2 separate regions of the Homo sapiens genome follow, and region 1 is linked to region 2. The links come from fine-mapping of genetic effects on gene expression. A gene starts in region 2. The other region holds a variant in brackets. All regions are shown on one strand. Distances are from middle to middle.

Region 1 (5,366 bases), 40 kb before region 2:
TGCAGAGTATAGCATTTATGATGAGACAAAGCTAATTGGGAAACAGAACAAGATTGGTGTCCTGGGGTAACTGGGTAGGTCTTAAGATGAAGATTTTGGGGTGTGCTGGGTGCAGTGGCTCACACCTGTAATCCCAATACTTTGGGAGGCTGAGGCAGGGGGATTGCTTGATCCCAGGAGTTCAAGACCAGCTTGGGCAACATGGTGAAATCCCGTCTCTACAGAAAACACAAAAATTAGCTGGGTGTGGTGGTGCACATCTGAAGTCCCAGCTACTTGGGAGGCTGAGTTTGGGAGGATTACTTGAGCCCAGGAGGCAGAGGTTGCAACAAGGTAGATCATGCCACTGTACTCCAGCCTGGGTGACAGAGCAAGACCCAGTCTGAAAAAAAAAAAAAAAAAATACTTTGGAGGGTGACCCCGTTCTGCAGATGGCCTCTGGAGGCCTGGATGTTCACACTCTGGGGTTGCAGTTTCCTCAATCATGAAGTGAGAGTTAAGTCCCCTCCAGTGTGACATCCAAGAGCAGTTGTGGGCCCAGGACAGCAGCCTGTGTTTCCTTTGCAGCTTTACCTAGCCCCTACACAAGCGCCACCTTGCAGTAGGCCTTCAGTTCTTGGATTTATTGGTGGCTGAAAGTTCTTGCGAGATGGACTTGAAGTTGTTGCCACTTAACCCTTCTGAGGTTCTTCTGGCTGGGAGGAGCTCCTCTTTCTGGCCAGAGTCTTGCTTGAGCCTTCTTAGCCATCTCGTCACCTGTTATAGGCAGCCCTGCCATCTCTGGTGACCCTTTTTAAACATTACCCTGGTGAGTAATGTTTAGCATCACTCATTGTCAGATCTTTTTTATCTTTTTTTTTTTTTGAGTTTCAGTACCAGTAAGTCTTTATGTATTCATTATATCTTTCCAGGGAAAGGAGAAGGGAAGTGAAAAGGGTCAGCATGTGTGTTGCAAAGTGATTAGAAAATGGGAAAGGAAGTACCTGGTACAGAAAAATCAGCCATCCAATAGATGCACCCCAGAGATGGAGTAACCAAAGCCCAAGGGGCCCTGGTCTCCTGCAGTTCAGGACTGAGGGGCAGGGATCAGGGAAGGTACAAGCCTTTCTACCCTCCCTCCCTGCCCCTAAATTCAAGATTTCACATAAAGCTTTGGTTTCTAGCAGTAAACATGGGGTTACATTCATCTGTCTCCTTTTAAACAATCTTGTAGCCACTTTGACATAAGTTCTTGCACCGGGCCGGGCGTGGTGACTCACACCTGTAATCCCAGCACTTTAGGAGGTCAAGGAAGGAAGATTGCTTGAGCCCAGGAGTTGGAGTCCAGCCTGGGCAACATAGTGAGACCTTGTCTCTACAAAAAAATTAAAAGAATTAGTCAGGTGTGTTGGTGTACACCTGTAGTTCCAGCTACTTGGGAGCTGAGGTGGGAGGATCGCTTAAGCCTGGGAGGTTGAGGCTGCAGTGAGCCAAGATTGTACCACTCCACTACAGTCTGGGCGACAGAGCAAGACCTTGTCTCAAAAAAAAAAAAAAAAAGTTTCTTGCACTTGCGTAAAAGTTCCTAAGTGACTTAGATATATACTCATATTCCTTTGCCTGGTCTCCTGACCCCACTTCTACGTGGAAGGCCCCCGGTTGCTTCTCCCTTCTTTGAGATTACAGATTAAGTAGGTTTGATCCATCCCAATAAAGCAGTGTCTTAAGTGTTTGGGGTGAACCACATTGACTCAGGTTTGGAACAAGAGATGGAGGGTTCCTGACTTCTTCAGGCTGTTCTCATACATCATTTAAGAGTTGCAGAGACAGCCTGAGAATTCAATATATGCGTGTGTGGGTATGTAGGTTTTCTTTTGGGGTAGGTGAATGGAGAAGAAGGTACGGTAGAAGTCAAGTTTTTAGGGCAGAAGATCTGGTCCAAAATAGGAAATAGAGGAAGGGGAACACAAAGAAAGGATAGTTCAAAATCCCTACTTCAATATGGGGGTCCCCCAAACTCATGTTTTACATCCTTTTTGCCTGGTTCAGAACTTTCTGTAAAGATGCTTTGGCCATTTTTCTCTCAATACAAAAAAGTTTGTAAACAATAAAACCCCAAAAAAACATGGAGAAAGACCAACACAGTATAGTTACACAAACTAGGCCACCTAGCAGTCACCAACTGCTACAAAGTCCAGACAGATACAGGAACTAGAGGGGGCAGCGTCAGGGGGAAACAAACCCAGGATCAGATGTGCACCCCTGAACACGTTCTATCGTGCTTGTCCCATTCTAGCCCAGCAAGGGAGGTTTGTGGTGATCCTATAGCGTGTAAATGAAGCCCCCTTTTCTCCTTAGTTACCGTGATGCTGAATCAGCGCTGCAGCAGGGCAGGACGCTGGCTGTGCACACCACATGAAGAGGCCCTCTCTTACGGGGCTCCCTTGAACCCAAGAATTTGGAAACGTTAAGAATTTTAGTTCTTGCTTCATATATCCTTCCCTGGACAGCACAGGATGGGTACAGGGGCACTGGTCTTAAAATTTAGCGTTCCCAAGTCACGTCTTTTACGAATACACACGCATACCCTCTGTTGTGGATGGTAGGCCTAGCACAGTCCAGTGAAGGACGGACCTGGTGTGTGAAGCAAGTCCCATGCCCTAGGATTAGGAAACCCTCACCTAACCGTGGTGTCCCTTGGTGTCTCTGCACCTTAGTCTAATTTTCAATCTTCCACTAGCCAGAGATCAAGTCTTGATGCTATCCAGTTGAAACCTAGTCTCCCGTGAAACATTTTCAAGGTCGGGGGGTTTCAGGAGGACACTGTGGCAGAAAAGCCAAGTCTCTGGCAAACATGAGGTAGTTCAATAGGCTGGGTCCTCCATATAGTTGCTCTTCGTGGTTAGAAAAACAACCAGAAGTATTCCTGCTATGCAGGCCTGGAGCTTCTGCCGACTTATCCCTGAGGTTGCTCAGTACCTGAGAAGAGTAAAGAGTGAGGGACCGAGATTAAAGTAGACAACAGCACAAACAACATTAAGGGGAATAAAAGCTAAGATGCACGGA[C/T]GTATCGGTGACACAGCTAGTGCTGTGGGCACCCGGGAGACGGGGGACCGAGGTACGGTATCCAAGGGAGCGAATCAGTCCCATCGCACTGGCCTGGAGCTGGGTGGGGTGAGTGTGGGAGCCGCAGGTCTGCAGCGGTCCCCCAGCCACACTCTCTGCCTGTCTCCGCCACCCATTGCTTGGGACACTTCCCAGCACCCTGTCCCAAGAGTGGGCTGTGAGGAAACAAGATGTGAGTAAAGCCTGGCCTGCCCATGAGGAATTTCCTCCCTCAGAAGGTAGTGGCTGTGGGTTGGGTCCGTCATCTGGCCTCATGCTTAATCATTTCACTCCAGCATGGGAAATATTATGATTACCTGTCCTTCTTAAAAAGGAAAACAACTTCCCTGTCCAGGCCACTTTTGAAAGCTGGAGATTCTAGGGGTAGTGCCTCAGACAAAGCATGTAGGCTCCTGAGTGATTTCCCCCAGCTGCCCTCGTTTGCATTTGGATAGAGCTTGGTTGGAGTTCCAAGGGCTGATGCTGGGAACCTTGCTCTGGATGCGAGGCCTGCCCCTGGAGGGAGCCGCGGAGGACTGGCAGCTGCAGATGCTGGAGCAGGCCAGCCTGTGGCTGGGCCGTAGCTTCCTGCTGGCAGGCTTCCTGGTATCGAGCAGCTGCCCCAGCCTGGAGCAGGCGGCCAAGGGTGAGGGCTGTTCCCCCATCCCTTGTTTCGCCCACTGCCTCGACTCCCTGGTGAGAAACTTTCTGTGTCACCCTCACAGTGTCCAGATCATCCTGGGCACTGCCAGGGCCACCTGCAGCCATTTCTAAGGCTCTGTGGAGGCCCAGGGACTCCTCACCCAGCTCCAGCGCCAGCGCAGCCTCCTAGCCCACCAGCCCTTTGAGGAGCTCTTGGACCACTGGGTCTCGGCCTACCACCTGCTGGAGTGGCTGGTGGAGCAGCAGCAGCCCCTTCAAGAGTACAAGGGCAGGCACCAGCTGGGGAAGGCTGGTGTTGCCTTGTCGGCCACATTCTGGAGCCCGGCAGACAGCCTCAGCAAGCTCCTGTAGCCCTTCCAGATGGTGGTCCGCGAGGCGAGTGCGGCACAGGCCTCTCTGAGCCAGGTGCTGCCCCAGCTGCGCTACCTGCACATCTTCCTGGAGCAGGTTCACACACACTTTCAGGAGCAGAGTGTCGGGGAGAGGGGCGCAGCCATCCAGCTGGCTGAGGGGTTGGCCCGGCAGCTCTGCACCGACTGTCAGCTCAACAAGCTCTTCTACCGCGAGGAGTTTGTGCTGGCCACCTTGCTGGACCCTTGCTTCAAGGGGAAGATTGAGGCCATCCTGCCATGGGGGCCGACCGACATTGACCACTGGAAGCAAGTCCTCGTGTACAAGGTGAAGGAGATTAGAGTGTCTGAATACTCTTTGAACTCCCCAAGTCCCCTGCAAAGCCCCAGGGGTCTGTGCGTGGACCCCACCAGGGTAGCCAAGAGCTCCGGGGTGGAGGGGAGAAGCCAGGGGGAGCCTCTGCAGAGCAGCAGCCACTCTGGGGCCTTCCTGCTGGCCCAGAGGGAGAAGGGCTTGCTGGAGAGCATGGGGCTGCTGGCCTCTGAGAGAAGCGGGGGCTCGCTGTCCACCAAGAGCCACTGGGCCAGCATCATTGTCAAGAAGTATCTGTGGGAGAATGAGACCGTTGGAGCCCAGGATGACCCCCTGGCTTACTGGGAGAAGAAGCGAGAAGCCTGGCCACCATCTATCTGTCTTACCCCCCACAGGAGCCTTCTCTGAAAGCATCTTTGCCTCCCTGAACAGCCCCACCCTTGTAGAGCAAAACTCTTCTCTCAAGGTGGAAGCCATTGAGCATCTCCTCTTCTTGAAGGCCAACCTGGAGCAGTTCCCCAACTACACCCCGCCTCCCCTCATCTGCTCTAGTGGTGACCTGGCCAAGGGGATACAGACCCTGCAGTCCGCTCAGGGTGGGATGGCAGACATGGCAGGTGCCGGTGCTCACCCTGCCCGTGAACTCCTAGAGAGCCCCTGCCTGTAATAGGTCAAAGCAGAGAGCTGGGTGTTGCATCCTGGGCGCCACATGCTCATGGCCAGAATCTTAAACCTATTTGGTAGGAAAGGGTCAGTTTCTCACTTGACAGATTGCCATATTTTTTTTTCTGGGAGATGTCATTTTCCATCTCCCGATTACTTCCTTTACGTCTAGCAGTATGTGCCGAGAAGAGGCTTACTCTCTTCGTAGGTGACTGTGAATTTTGTACTACGTGGCTTTGTACATGTGATGCTCTGTTAAAACATAAGTGGGTATGAAGGTCCTTGCATACACC
Region 2 (5,366 bases):
GGTCTGCAGGCCAGGGCATCCACTTGGGAGGGGGGCCCAGGTTTCTGAAGAGCAACTCAGGGACATATATTAAGATGTTATCTTTAGTTTCTATAGGGAACCAAACATTTTGTGACTGTAACTTCCTTGTTTTAAGCTACAGTTACCTTCTTGTTTATTAGGTTGCTAGCTGGGTGCCTGGAATTTCCCTTGAAGGAATTCAAGATTTTCCTTTATTTCCATGCTTGCCCCCTCCCCACTTCCTGCAGGCCTGTAAGAGGGGTGCCGGCTCCATGTCAGTTTGGAAGAATAAATGAAGTGATTCTAGCCAAGAAGTTATGAAGAATAAAAAAACCCAGAATCTTTGTGTAGGGGAAGTACTTAAACTACCAGCTACCAAAACTTATTTTCTGTGATAAAACTGCAGACATTCAATGTAGTTTTAGGTTGCGGGTAGCCTCTCTAAACATAACTCTAAAGGCAGAAACCATAAAGGAAGACTGCTAAGTTTTGGCACATTAAAACAAAACTTTCTCGCCGGGCACGGTGGCTCATGCCTGTAATCCCAGCACTTTGGGAGGCCAAGGCGGGCAGATCACGAGGTCAGGGGATCGAGACCATCCTGGCTAACACAGTGAAACCCCGTCTCTACTAAAAATACAAAAAAATAGCTGGGCGTGGTGGCGGGCACTTGTAGTCCCAGCTGCTCGGGAGGCTGAGGCAGGAGAATGGCGAGAACCTATGAGACGGAGCTTGCAGTGAACCGAGATCACACCTCCCTCTACACTCCAGCCTGGGAGACAAGCCAGACTCCATCTCAAAATAAATAAATAAATAAATAAATAAATAAATAAATAAATAATAAAATAAAAATAAAACAAAACTTTCTTATGCTCGCTTCAGCAGCACATAGACTAAAGCAAAACTTTCTCACATCAACAACTGAAAAGGTAGGCCGGATGCAGTGGTTCACATCTGTAATCCCAACACTTTGGGAGGCTGGGGCGGGAGGATCGTTTGAGACCAGCCTGGGCAACACAGTGAGACCCCATCTCTACAGAAGAAAAACATTAAAATAAAATAATTAGCTGGATGTGGTGATGTGATCCTGTAGTCCCAGCTACTCAGAGGCCGAGGTGGGAGGATTGCTTGAGCTCAGGAAGTCCTGGCTTCAGTGAGCCATGATAGTGCTACTGCACTCCAGCTCTGGTGACAGAGTGAAACCCTGTCTCAAAAAAAAAAAAAAAAAAAGTTAACAAGTACGAGGAAACACGTCTGCAACAAACATGACAAGTCTTTAATACCTGTACTTTATGAGTGCCCCCCAAACAATAAACCAACTCCCCAACTTTTAAAATGGGCAAATAGAAAAGTGGGCAAATGGACATAAACAAATTCACAAGAGAAAATAAAACTGGCAAAAAATAACCATGTGAAAAAACAATCCAGCTAACTAGTACTCTAAGAAATGCAAGTACAAAAGATGAGAAATAACCATTTCAAACTAAATTTTTTTTTTAAAAAAGTCTGTGTTGTCAAGTATATGGAAAATGGGCATTTCTCAGGGAAAACTAATACGTTTTCCTGGAAGATAATTTAGAAAACATTTAAAAAATATATTCCTTTTATACAGCCATAAATAATCATGTTTAAAAGAATATCTAATAAAATGGAAGAAAATTCACAAGATCGTGTTAAGTGAAGAAGGCAGAATACATCTTCGCAAGGCATTATTCCAATTATGCCAGACATGCCATGGATATACGTAGAGAAAACACCGGAGGCAACATACCAAAATATTAAATGTAATTGACTCTACGAGGTAAAACTGAGTTTTATGTTCCCCTATTTCCTATTTATGCAATAGATTTAAAAAGTATTTTTACGACTAATTATACAATTCAAAAATTGCCTGTGTTGAAAAGCATGAAAGTACATGAAATTGTACTACCCTGGAAACCCCAGGAAGTGTTTAGTTTGGAAAGCCAGGGCCACCTGCTAGTGGGTGAGTCATGGGCACAGGCTCGCACCTGCCACCGCAGACGCCACACAGGCTGCTGAGCCTTTCCAAGCGAAATGCCCCACGTGCGCCAACGGCCACCTCGGCCGTCGCCCCACGCTTGGCCCGCAGCCAGAGGAAGCCCAGCAACTTCTGCTCTTTCTTAATTTCTAGAAAAGAGTGAAGAGAGGCCTTTTCAAAGTTCGCAGGATCGGGCCTTTTTGTGCTCCACTTTGGAACAAATCGGAAGCTAGGGCCTTCCAGGTGCGCCACCGCCGTCCCGGGACCGCCGCGGCCGCAAGCGTCCGCACTGCGGCCGGGGTGCGCGGCCTGAGAAAGGCCCGGGCAACGACGCTCCGGGGGCTTGCCGGAGCCCTCTTTGAAGTCTCCCGACGGGCTCCCAGCCTCTCATAAGGCAGCTAAGGCCGAACACCCCGGTGACCATAGGCCAGCCACGCGGTCGCCCGGGGACGCGCGTGCTCCGCAGGGACAAAGGGTCGGGAAACTTGAGCTCCGGCCAGTCCCAGAGAAACCCGGGCTGGTGGTCGCCATGGCAACGGAGTCCGACCCTCCGAGGCCTGCCGCCCTGGCGCGGCAGTGGCTTGAGTGACCCGGCCCGCTCTTGGCGGGGGCGCCCGCGCCCCGGCCCCGGCAGTCCCTCCCCGCCCCCAGGCCGCGGCCGCGGGAGCCGGCGACTGACCCTCGGCAGCTCCTGTAGTCACGTGGCGCTGGGAACCCGGCGGGGGGAGGTTGGGGACGGGCCTGGCAGTTGTGAACTCGAACCTGCCGCTGTCGCCGCGGCGGGGCGGGGAGCGAGAGTGGGCCGCGGAGGCCGGCCTTCGGGCTCCATGGACGGGCGCCGCGTCCCTGCACAGCCCGCCGCAGAGGTACGGCCGGGGCAGGGGCGCGGGGCCACCGCGGGCCCGCGGGGGGCCGCTCCACCTGCGGGGCGCGTGACCGTGAGTGTGCGCGACCGTGTGTGAGTGCGCGGGGGGGGACGCTGCTGGATCTGCGGGGGTGGGGGAGCGCACCTGCGCACAGGCTCCGCGAGCTGCGCCGTGCGTGGGACCCGAAATGGCTCACTCGCAAGAACGGGACCCGTGTGCCCGGGAGCGTGGACGGAGGACACGCATCAGTACAAAAGGGCGGTGTGGGGCTTCTGCCACCCGCGGCCAGCCGCGATGCGGAAGGGGATTCTGACGGAGTCGTGGTCACACCAGCTGGCCCTGCGCAGCCCCATGGGAAATAGGCCTGGAATTCCTGTCGGGAGGAGGCTGGGGGAAGGGGAGCCAGCAGGGATTCCAGAGTTCCTGCCATAGGCCGGCCTTTGGCCATCAGGGAAAGCCCAGACTCTGGCCACAGAATGGAGAATTCGTTCCGTGACCTTACCAGGGAAGAAAGTGACCCCGAAAGACAGCAGTGTGCTTCCTTGTTGAAGGGGCACATTCATTTATTAATCCAATGTCCATTAAGGTCACTCTGCCAGGCAGGATGTGGGGCTTATGGCTGGTGCGTGTGGCTTTGTGGGGGGAGGGGTTGTGGCTGGTGAGGACACAAAGCTGACTGCCCTAGAGGAGCTCAGAGCCTCACTTCTGTTTTCTCTTCCCTCCCCACAGGTAAGGCTGGCCTCTCTGCAGTCAGAGGTCTGAGCTCTGCCATGGGGATAGGGGTGTCTTTATTACTGCAGTTTTCTCTAACACCTGGGGGCTACCGGAGTGTGGGCCGAAGCAGGCGCTGCAGCCGCGGAAGTATCCCCAGGAACATCCCCAAGAGGAGCTGGAAAAAGCCTCATCCCCAGCTCTGCAGTCTCCAGGGTAGAGTCTGGCCTTTGCTGTGCTCCCAAACCACGCCACAACAGGGGTGCACGGGCGTCCCCATCCCGGCGGAAGGAAATGGCCCTTTCTCATATCCTGGGGTCTTCCCTGTGCACAGTCTGACACTGGGAATGAGTGACCTTTGTGTTCCCTGAGAAGAGAGAGTGCGCTCTAGGGAATTTAGAAGGATGTGTCTGGAGCTTGTGAGCAGGCACAGAAGGGCCCTTAGGAGCCTAACTGCTTCCTTCCTCCTTCCGCGGAGGAGGCTCCTGTGCAGGAATCTGGGCTCCCCTGAGCTGTGGAAGAGCTGAACATGGGGCAGCCCCTGGCGAGGTTGGGGCAGGACCGGGCAGGGGACTGAGATTGCAGTCTCATCTTCCCTCCCCTTCTATTGCCCCAGTAATCTCCAGCACCCCGAGGGAGGCAGAGCCGGTGATCAGGCCCCGAGGGCAGCAGGCTGTGGGTGTTCCTTGGATTCAGGGAGAGCCTTCCTTCCTGCAATGTCCTAATTTGTGTGGGTGGAAGAGGGCAGGCGGGCAGAATGGGGGCACAGTCTGGGCAGGCGGTGGTCTGGCGTTAGACTGCCGGGAGTAGCACCCAGGGCTCTGCTCCTGTTCCCCGAGAAGGGCTGTTCTCACTTGTCCTCCAGCCTCCTACGGAGACTGCAGTTAGTGATGCTGAAAGTGCCTCCCCTGTGGGGCTAGGAATGAAAAGCTATAGACACCTTTTTCTCTGAGATCTTTGCAAACCCAGGCGCTTTAGAGGAAAGAACACTGGCCTGGGAGTTTAAAGACCTGTTCCCTAGTCTTGATTCTGCTGTTGGCTTACTGTGTCACCTTGGGCAGGTCTCGTCATCTTTGATGTCTCACAGTTGCTTCATCTGTTAAACAGGGAGCTCAGTGTCTGTTTGTCCAGCTTCTCAGAGTTGCTGTGCAGCTCGGATGTGGCATAGGAAACAGCAGACACAGGGAGAGGGCAGCATAAGGCACTGTAGGGAGCAGTGGCCACATTTTCTGGTGAGTCCTGTGGCAGGAATGTTTGTGCATTCAGCACTGGAGCATTTACTCCCTGTCTGACACTGGGGTAGCTGCCATGAGGGGGATTCTAGTATCAGAGTCCCTCCCTTCTGGAAGTTTCCAGGGCAACAAAGACATAAGACAAACATCCTTGAAATGTTATCTAAAAACCCAAGATTGAAATAATACATACCACACAAGGAAACAGGAGAGTAGTCTAGCTCCATGTCCGGGGCTCTAGGGGTTCATAGATGGCAGCTCCTGTCCGGGGCTGAGGTTGGGAGGGGAGAAACAGGGGCAGAGTGAGTTGGTCTCTGGAGTGACTGTGCTTTTCCACCCTCAGCAGAGGAAGAACCGATGCTGGAACGTCGTTGCAGGGGCCCCCTGGCCATGGGCCTGGCCCAGCCCCGACTCCTTTCTGGGCCCTCCCAGGAGTCACCCCAGACCCTGGGGAAGGAGTCCCGCGGGCTGAGGCAACAAGGCACGTCAGTGGCCCAGTCTGGTGCCCAAGCCCCAGGCAGGGCCCATCGCTGTGCCCACTGTCGAAGGCACTTCCCT

What was found.
Region 1: its variant is fine-mapped to the expression of REPIN1 in whole blood (TOPMed, PIP 0.92).

The regions. Positions count from the first base shown.
Region 1 is chr7:150,326,298-150,331,663 of GRCh38, forward strand. All of the region lies in intron 2 of LRRC61 (leucine rich repeat containing 61), which reads left to right. It also overlaps the pseudogene ZBED10P. Among named protein-coding and RNA genes, the nearest start is that of ACTR3C, 5.4 kb to the left of the region's middle. The variant C/T (reference allele first, on the strand shown) is at 3,046.
Region 2 is chr7:150,366,077-150,371,442 of GRCh38, forward strand. It overlaps REPIN1 (replication initiator 1), which reads left to right and starts at 2,746. Exons shown (of 3, transcript NM_001099695.2): 1 at 2,746-2,865; 2 at 3,595-3,792; 3 at 5,152-5,366. The coding sequence starts at 3,636. REPIN1-AS1 (REPIN1 antisense RNA 1) reads right to left here. Exons shown (of 4, transcript NR_183429.1): 2 at 5,002-5,079; 3 at 4,629-4,780. RefSeq lists enhancers at 2,220-2,279, 2,319-3,123, 3,124-3,929, 3,930-4,734 and silencers at 2,530-2,999, 3,510-3,659.